3 separate regions of the Homo sapiens genome follow, and all the other regions are reported to be linked to region 1. The links are microRNA targets in miRTarBase. Many come from high-throughput screens and were not tested one by one. Region 1 holds a microRNA gene; each other region holds the end of a gene's coding sequence.
The links. The annotated mature microRNA hsa-miR-496 reads UGAGUAUUACAUGGCCAAUCUC and lies in region 1 at 1,116-1,137, shown strand. An mRNA with a match to its seed (bases 2 to 7 or 8) in the 3' UTR can be bound and repressed. Matches are read on the target gene's strand: a 7mer-m8 pairs with bases 2 to 8, a 7mer-A1 pairs with bases 2 to 7 and ends in A, and an 8mer does both.

Region 2: miRTarBase lists TIPRL as a target of hsa-miR-496. Seed matches in the 3' UTR shown: 7mer-A1 at 437-443.
Region 3: miRTarBase lists WBP11 as a target of hsa-miR-496. Seed matches in the 3' UTR shown: 7mer-m8 at 109-115.

Annotation. Positions count from the first base shown.
Region 1 is chr14:101,059,513-101,062,869 of GRCh38, forward strand. MIR496 (microRNA 496) reads left to right here and starts at 1,061; the gene lies at 1,061-1,162. MIR154 (microRNA 154) reads left to right here and starts at 243; the gene lies at 243-326. It overlaps MIR377 (microRNA 377), which reads left to right and starts at 2,538; the gene lies at 2,538-2,606.
Region 2 is chr1:168,199,626-168,202,982 of GRCh38, forward strand. TIPRL (TOR signaling pathway regulator) reads left to right here. Exons shown (of 7, transcript NM_152902.5): 7 at 278-2,484. The coding sequence ends at 421. Among named protein-coding and RNA genes, the nearest start is that of TIPRL, 22 kb to the left of the region's middle.
Region 3 is chr12:14,784,586-14,787,585 of GRCh38, forward strand. WBP11 (WW domain binding protein 11) reads right to left here. Exons shown (of 12, transcript NM_016312.3): 12 at 1-2,913. The coding sequence ends at 2,480. Among named protein-coding and RNA genes, the nearest start is that of H2AJ, 12 kb to the left of the region's middle.

The sequences.
Region 1 (3,357 bases):
GCCTCTCCACCATCAGGTTCCCTGGCAGTGCTCCTTTAGACATGCACCCACCTTGGCAAAGGCATTGAGGTCTGGATGGCTGCAGGGTCCGGGATGGAATGGTTGAATACAGGGCGTGTGCTTTCTTCTCAACCCTCTTGCAGTCCGTCTGCTAACCGTCAATGTTCACTGTCTCCTAGGGGGACTTCCTGGAGGAGGCCAACTTTGGAGAACAGGCATTGACATTGGGTCTGCGCTAGCGTGTGGTACTTGAAGATAGGTTATCCGTGTTGCCTTCGCTTTATTTGTGACGAATCATACACGGTTGACCTATTTTTCAGTACCAAATCCCGCCTTGGAGGGCTTCCTGGAGCGGAGTCTTACTTCAGGGTGTCAGCTCCTCTCCAGGGTAAGGAAGGGGACCATTGACCATAGCCGACCCAGCAGTGTGCCCTGGCCCTAACCCTGTGTGTGCCCCGTCCTTGGGGAGGTTTCTAGAGATGGTGCCACCTTTGGGGAAGAAGTGGAGCTTTTCCTATCAGAGCTACTCTGTGGTACTGGTGGAGAGGTCTTCCATGATGCATTCGATTTATTTTTTGACCAATCCTACATAGTGGACTCTTTTGAAAGCATTAAATCTAGCCTTAAAGCACCCTCGGGTGGTGCCGAGTTTAGGAACTAGAACTGGTGTCTGAATGCCTGAACGCACGGCGAAGCTGACAGTGTGCACACTCTTCTTGGTGGGTCGTGCACCTGCAGGCGTCCTGCTTGCTTACCATGGCAGTTTCCTCGAAAGAGGCGGCAGTTCCCTCATCGGCTCACTGCATGTTTGACAAGACACCGTCTTGCTGTCTTCCCTGCTGCCCTCTCTTCATGTATCACAGATGGTGCTCTGCAGACCTCTCTGCTGTGGCACTTCCCTCCCTGAATGGCTTCCTGCAAGAGGTGCTAATTGCAAGTAAGGGATGGAGTGCGGCCCGGACCGCAGAGCTTATTTCGTGGGTGGTGTGTTGCCACCTTCCTGACTCTCAGTATCCCGTCCGTCCTCAGGCCTGCTGCTGGGACGCGCTGGAAGCGAGCACCCAAGTCAGGTACTCGAATGGAGGTTGTCCATGGTGTGTTCATTTTATTTATGATGAGTATTACATGGCCAATCTCCTTTCGGTACTCAATTCTTCTTGGGAAACGTCACGAGGGGAAAGCCCAGCCGGCACCTGCGCAGGGTAAGGAAGTGGATCACCTCCGCATGACAGGTGCTCTCTGTGTGACTTACATCACTTGGCTCATATCCCGGCCATCATTAGGAGGAATTCCCCGAAATGATGCTGACGTTTTAGTTGACATGGTGGTCTTCTAGTCGCATCCTTGAAGACTCGTCAGTGAATAAACCACATTTAGTCAACCTTTTTAGGTGTGAAATCATCTTGGCTGTGTGGCACACTTTAGGGAAAGGAACTCCTGGCTGAATGGAAGACATCCACATTACGCCCTCAAATACCTTATCTTCTGGGTGACCTCTGGGAAGCAAGGGGTGAAGGGGGTTTCCTCAGCAGTGAGAATTAATGTTGTTTAAAGACACATTTCCATGGCACGACTCGGTTATTCCTACTGCAAGACGAGAATTGTTAATAGCATTTATTACTACCTTATGTTGCCAGCTGTGTGCCCTTGGAAAATCCCTTCACCTATCAGCTCTCTGGGCCTCAGTCTCTTCCTCTGTAAAGCAGGGTTAACAGCGGAGTGGAAACGTGCTCTTTGTGAAGTGTCTAGACAGCGTCTGGCACGTGGCTGTAGGATAAGCATTGTTTCTGAGGATGGTCATTATATGAATGTTATGTCATCTGCACTCATTGTCCTCTCGCCACTAGAATGGAAGCTCCCTGAGGGCAGAGTCCTTGTCTGTTTTGCCTGGTGCTGTGTCGCCAGATGTGCACAGTAGGTGTGATGCTGAATGAATGAATAGGCAGCGTGACCTGTTTTCTTGGTTGAACTCTCTTTGAGGCCTCCTGGAATGGAGTGCATGGAGTACAGTCACCTGAGCCTGTGCTGTCCCTGTGACGCAGCCCCACCCACCCTCTGAGGATGCTGCGCTGGACGAGGAGTCGCCAGCCTTCAGGTCGGGTCCTCCCTCAAACCCCTGTAGGCTGGACTGAACACGGTCACATGGTTCATTGGCAGCCCCCTTCTCTGTGTGAAATCCTGCTTCAGAGACTTCCAGAGGAGATACCGGCTCTGGAGGTGGACCTTGGTGTTCCAGCCCCTCTAGGGTAGGTGACCAGGGGCTGACTCTAGCTCGGGCTGACCTGTGATGTGTGTGTGCATAGCCTCGCCCCCACTGCCTGCTCCAGGGCTACAGAAGCTGGTCCATGACCAACCATGTTCTGACCACTGCCTGGGGGGCTTCTCGGAGGTAGAGAGAGAGAGAGAGCAAGAGGGGAGAGAGCGAGCCAGCAAGCCAGCGAGCCTGCAGCTGGAGTCAGCAGGGAGGTCCCGCAGGCAATGCCGCCTTTGGTGAAGAGGCATCTCGGTGTGTTCTTGCCCGTGCTGATGTTTGACCCTTGAGCAGAGGTTGCCCTTGGTGAATTCGCTTTATTTATGTTGAATCACACAAAGGCAACTTTTGTTTGAGTATCAAATCCTGCTTGGGATGGCTTCCGGGACCCAGTGGCAAGCTCAGGGGCATCTACACCCCTCCCGTGAGCAAGAATGGACGGGGTAGACGTGGGTGGTCTGCCCTCTGCGGTCCTCTGCGGTGGATGAGAACAGATGTCGCTCAGAGAACACAAGCTTCATTCATGATGGGGGCGGGGCTCGCGGCCCGGGGAGGATGGCGTTGGTGTCGCGTCGGCTTTAGCTCTTACCCTGGACCCTGTCTCTTTACATCACCATTTTGGCTGTGTTGATCCCAAAGACATTTTGACTCCACCATTTTTTTTTCGGAAGGTATTTGACCTCGCGGATACACAAAGAGCTCACACTTGGCAGGGTCTGTGACGAGTCTGCAGCCCCAGACCCCCGTCTAGCTCACAAGCACTGTGCTTCTTTCTGCACCTTTCCTTGTCTCTATCTTTCTCTTTCTATCCCCCAACCAAACATTGTTCCCAATTTTCTCCTGGGTTATGAAACAAATAGAGGCTATCAGTATCTCATCCCATTTGTATTAAATAATACTGATAAAAATAATCAACACAAAATAAAACTAAAAACAGCTGAAACGGCACAGTGCTAAATGTGTTCAGTTGACTACAAATTGGCAGAGGAATCCAATTTTCTTGACAACATTTCAGCTGTGACATTTGACCTGGGGAAATAGCAAGCTGCCGACGTGGCAGCCATGGAAGGAAATTCACGGTGGCGGCGGTGATAAACAGTGATATT
Region 2 (3,357 bases), not on the chromosome of region 1:
GCAGGAGATACATAGGGTTGGATTAAGATGTATTAAATTCTTAGGACATTTGTGGGAACATTATAGATTATATAACCCTGTGATCTTTGATGAAATCATTCAGTAACAAAGTTGAATGATTCCGTATCAAGAAATACCTATTATTTTTAGGAGCACATATGCATATATTGCACCTGATTTTAAAATTTCCATGCTTTATGAATGCTTGAACCAAAACATTTGTAAAAAATTTCAGTACAGTAACTGAATATGCTAATATGATTTATGTATTTCCTAGCATGTTCCACCTTCCCTCTTCACGGAACCTAATGAAATATCCCAGTATTTACCAATAAAGGAAGCAGTTTGTGAGAAGCTAATATTTCCAGAAAGAATTGATCCTAACCCAGCAGACTCACAAAAAAGTACACAAGTGGAATAAAATGTGATACAACATATACTCACTATGGAATCTGACTGGACACCTTGGCTATTTGTAAGGGGTTATTTTTATTATGAGAATTAATTGCCTTGTTTATGTACAGATTTTCTGTAGCCTTAAAGGAAAAAAAAATAAAGATCGTTACAGGCAGGTTTCACTCAACTGCTGTTTGTACTGTCTGTCTTCACATTCATATTCCAGATTTATATTTTCTGGAGTTAAATTTGGATGATTTCTAAATTATCACAAAGTGGGACCTCAGCAGTAGTGATGTGTGTGTCTCATGAGCAGTGAGCACAGTCTGCATTCATCATGAAACACTATCTTCTACCAGGAGGAGGTTAATGTAAATCACCAAATCCCAATGCCTTGTGACTTTCATAGGATTCCTGATCATGCATGTTGATGTACTGGCTCTTCACTTTGGGCTTTCTGATGTTTATTCACACCTTTGGAGAGTTGCAACTTGCCACATACGAAATTAGTCTCATAGTGTAGTGAACTTCAACCCCAAAATTTTAAAAATGTATTTCCCCCCAGTTTTAAATTGCCTTTGAAATTTAAAAAAAAAAAATTTAGACTTAGTACCAGAACCAAAAATACCTAGATTTTTGGAGAACTTATTACATACATAGAAACATGAATATGGTTTACCACTGTGTGTGTGTAGGATGTTAGAATTATCTGTCCTCCATCTTTAGGTGCTTTTTCTTAAATGTGGTTCTACTTATACTGATATTTTTAATTTCCATCTTCCATGCAACCTCAGAGTGAATAAACCCCTTAAATTTGGTGCTGGTTCGAAAAAGTCTAAAGGGTTTATTAGGGGTTGTTTTTCGCAAATATTACATCAATCCTTAAAGCAACAAGATTAATTTTCTGCTTAAAATATTTGGGAAGATAGGTAAGGAGGAGGGGGTTTTAAAATATAAAAGCAAGTTTTTCTATTTTAAGGTGCATATTTGTAACATTACAGGGGATGAAGTAAAATGTAATTAATTAGCACAAGACTTAGGGAGTACAGAAAATACACAGAAGTAAATTTCAAATCCATTTGATTGTTTTCATAGTGACCCCTTAGTCATTTTATATTCTTGTCTGCCTTTCTAGAAAAATGGTTGTCATAAAGTGGAAAGTGATTAAAAAGCATCAAATAAGAAATTATTTCAAGTGGATTTTTAAAAATATTTTTTTGAAGGGCAGGGGGAAAATTCACCCCTTTTCTGATTTGAAATATGTTGTACATATTTCCATTTGATGGATAAATCATTAAGTAAGAATATTTGATTTAAAGTATTAGCCAACCTCTTCAGGTATTAGCCTGAAGATAAATTTTAACAAAACATATACACTTGGGTATCCGTCATTGCTCAAACTCTATAGTGTATTGCTGGAGCCAATAGGCAGGGTATATTTTATTAGCTAAATTTGATATTTGTCTTCTGCCTTCTGTATCACCTCCAAGCTATAGGAAATCAGGATTTTGTTGGCTTTAAGAAAACACATGGTATGTTCACTGTATATTAAATATACCTGTATTTAATGTTTTCTCTTAGGACAGAAAAGTAGACACACACACACACACACACACACATGTTGTGTTCAGCTTTCTGTTTTATATTATTTGCCATTGAGATTAGAATAGAACAGGCTCTATTCATGCAAACTATATGAAATGAAAAACTTTTAAGACTCTTCATTAATTGGAGCTTCTGGGCAACATCGTGTGTGTGTGTGTGTGTGTGTGTGTGTGTGTGTGTATACAGACATTTTTTTTTTAACTTGTTGATTCAGATGTCTTGGTCCCTGAATAGTCCTAGATTACTTATTTTGAGAATTCATTGTTAAAAATTACAGGGAATTAAAATAATTGCCTTTTTTTTTTTTAGAGGGTAAGAGATGGGTAGAAGAGTATGCCTCTGAAAATTTTATTAGTTTATTCTTGTGGAGAATACCAAGAAAATGTGTATTTGCCCATTGCTAAATATGATATATGCCATTTTGTATTTATTTGTCCCAAGTGTCTTTTTGTAAGAGGAGAATAAACAATAAGGAATTACTGATCAAAGTTTTACTATTTCATTTATTTGAGTTTTTCTTAGAGCTTAATTAAAGAAGTGTGGTTTGGGGTATACTTTTCTTATTTGTGCTTTATGTTTTGAACTCAGTCAACACTGTAGACAGTCTCCAGGCAGGTTATAAATTAAAACCTAACTGATGGTTCAGAATACAATTTCCCAGTTTGCATTTGGGCTCTTGCCTCTCCTCTCCCTCTGTTCATCAATATTTCCATGGATGTTTTTTAACAGTATTTTCTGTATGTTGGGTTAATGTTTTTGGTTTTTGAAAATATGAATACCTGTCGTATGTATTAGTTTTGAGTACTATATGTACAATTATGGTGCTAGGTATAATAGATTACAACAATGAAGCGATGTAGTATATGTTTTTATAGGATTAAAGTCTAATGGAGGAGACAAAGTAAAAAAATTACTAATTTTAATATGTGCAGTGATGGAAATGATACTGACAAGAGAGTAACAGAAAATCAACTAACTTTAGTAGAGGTAGTCAGAGCTCTGCTTCTCAAGAAGATGTGGAAAACCTCAAGAGACTGTCATTCCCATTTTAACAAGGAGAAAAGGCTGGGTCATCTATAAAATTAAAGCTTTTTTTCTTGAACATATCAAAGAACTGAAATTACAAGGCAAACAAACCAAATCCCAAAGAGTGATAAGCCCTACAAGGAGAGATGGGACATACTGACTGTTTAACCTTAGGAAGAACCCAAGAGAAAGAGATGGCCTTTATATAAACAGGTAAAATATTGGCAAAAATTTTAAGAAATTCCTAAAGTGTACATGTGGGCTAGCATACCAGTTTGGAATAGCCAAGAATCTGAAATAAGGGAACTTCATACACACTCACAAGTTCTT
Region 3 (3,000 bases), not on the chromosome of region 1:
TATAAGGAGATATTTTAATCAAGAGCACAAACAAGAATATACAAAATGAGAACTGAAACAGAATCTTGGATAGCATCCAGGGCTTCATGCTGATTCCATGACATGGCAGAGTATTATTGTGGTGATCCTTAATTTAAAGGGGCAACTGCTGTCCCTAAAGTGACACTTTGATAAGGAAATAGTAACAAGTCTATCCATATACATGATTAAAGATTTCTATCATTTACATTTCATAGCTGTGAGCTGACCATTTTCATGAAAATATTATGTAAATTATGATCATAACAAGTGTACCCAGAATCAGAACTGCTAATTAATTCCCCTTTCCTGTGGATGCAGCTGATGTATTGTCACACCACTAATTTTCAGAAAATTATACTAGCAATATAAGGAAATGCCTTTATGATAAACTATCAACAGCTTTCTTATATTAACATAAATCAGAAATCTCCAACTGAAGGCTGAGATGGGAAGATCACTTGAGGCTAGGAGACCAGACTGGGCAACATAGCGAGACCTCATCTCTAAAAAATAAATTAGCTGGTTGTGGTGGCACGTATCTGAAGTTCCAACTACTTGGGAGGCTGAGGCCAGAGATCACTTGAACCCAGGAGTTTCAGGCTGCAGTGAGCTATGATCACATCACTGCACTGCAGCCTGGGCAACAGAGTTAGAACCTGTCTCCATGGAAAAATGATAAAAACATCACTCCCAGAAAGAATATAAGTTTCAAGTAAGACCATTAAAAATATTTCAGATCAAGTATTGGGAAATAATTCTGTTTATGCTGAATAACTAACAATATTGATACCATATGGTTTGATCCTTGATATCCGTAAGTTATCAAGGATGGTGTCAAGGATTGATAACATAAGGTTCAATCCTTACATCTGAACAGACTCAATTCACCTGTGGACCCGTATTAATATTACACTAAAAAACCAACCCAAAACGGTCTATTTAGTGCTTTGGCAGGATTTGCTTTAATATGAAAGAATAAATCAGTATCTTCCAAGCAAAGCCAAACAAACAAAAGATCTTGAATAAAAATCTAAAAATCCATCAACTCAACTCTAAGAAAATAAATGCCTTATTGTATTATTGCACTACATTTTAGGTTATCACCAATTTTTGATAGTATGGGATTCATGTAAAAGGCATTTGAGATACTGTGGAAAGTAACGTATGCCTAAACAATGCACGCACTGTGTGTATGTGTTTATGAAATACACACTTTGGATCACTGGATAAATCACGAGTCCTTTTTAAGTTTCAATACTCTCTAATGTAAAATGGGGAAAATACCCAGAAAAGTTATCTATAGGGTTAATTGGTAGATGAGTTAGTCATTAAATTAACATTAAACTTACTAAGAGTTAGTCTAAATTGGTAGATGAGTTTACATTAAAGCACTTTGTAAAGAAAATGGTATAAATGCAAATTAATGTTAAGCACTCTTATTCATTCATATTTTAATATAAAAGCACACCAAACCCACCAATTCAGAAAGGAAAAAAAGCTAACCTCTTCTGATTCTTTTATAGCTTAAAAATGGTTTAAAATGACTTTTGCCATTCAACTCGTATCAGTTCAAGAAGCTCTGGAATAAGTAACCACTGAAGGTAAGACATCTTTTAAATAATAAAAGCCAAACCATACTATTCTTAACACCTCTCAGTTTCTCTAAAGCCAGTATGACAATCTTAAAAAAGGGAAATAATTACTCCTTTTTATCCCTTAAAATTTAAAATGTAGTTTTTACCATGTTTTCAGTAAGATTCTCATTCTGTACCAGAAAGGCAGTTCCTTAAAGACCCAAGTTTTAAATATTTAACTTTTTCTGTCCATAAAATAGGTATTATGTTTACATATTATCAGTAACACAGAGTATCTTGGTGTAGAACATTTATTTATTTTTCCCACAAATCACTGAAAGTTTAGGTCAGTGGGAAATAATTTTAATCAAATAATTGTACATATTCTTCCCACATATCCTGCCTTGTATTAGGAAATGACATTGTGATCCATTTCATTACAAGTAAAATATTACAAAATATTTACAGGAAAATATTAAAAATAACTCAAACACAAAAGGCAAGATGAAATAAACTGTTTTTTTTTCTCCAGAAATCTCTACTCCAGTGCCCACAGCACACAAGAGTCAAAACAAATAAGCAACTAAGATCCCCCGATCACAAATTTCCAAAGAACTGGAGGAGGGGAAGAAACAGGGTGAAAATGGTGGTATGAAAGGGAATGGATGTTAGCAGCACTGCTTCAATAACTGATCTATTCTGGATGAAATACCCTTTTTTATGTGCAGTAAATTCTGAACAAGGCTAAATTTTAGGATATTCCTTGAACTGAAATTAGAAAATACCCTGACAATGGAAGCAGCTCTTTCATCTAAGTTTAATAAGAGCCTCTTTCTCCATGGGCCACTGTTGTGAACAGAAGCCTTTTCTGGCATCAAAAGCTGTCACAGTAGCCCTTCCATCTCTTTCATGAAAGCCTCATAGACATCATCCTTAGTTTGTACTGAGACAGGAACAGAAGGACCAGATTTGGGTGCTGCTTTGGCAAGAGGCACAGCAGAATCATCCTCTGACTTTCTTTGGGGAGCAGCAGTAGCCCCTTTATTCTCCCGACGTACTCTCAGTGCAGTGGGCACAAATCGAGTAATCTCTGCCTTGGGATTAGTGATCTGTGGCTTGGCACTGATGGTTGCTGTGGCTTTCTTCTCAATGGTGGCTGCACTTGTATCATCCGCCTTGGGTCGCTGAATCAAGTTGGGTGGGGCACTTAAAACCCCAGGGTTTGGCAAGGGAGCTGGTGGGAACAGCCCAGGGGGGGCAGGTCCAAGGGGAGGCACCAAAGGTGGGCGCATCATGCCAGGACGAGGTGGAGGAATACCTAAATGAATAAAATAGGCAAGATGAATACTGTAAGAACTAATAAAATTTAACTACTATTAAGGACATTTAAATATTGGTTGCCAAT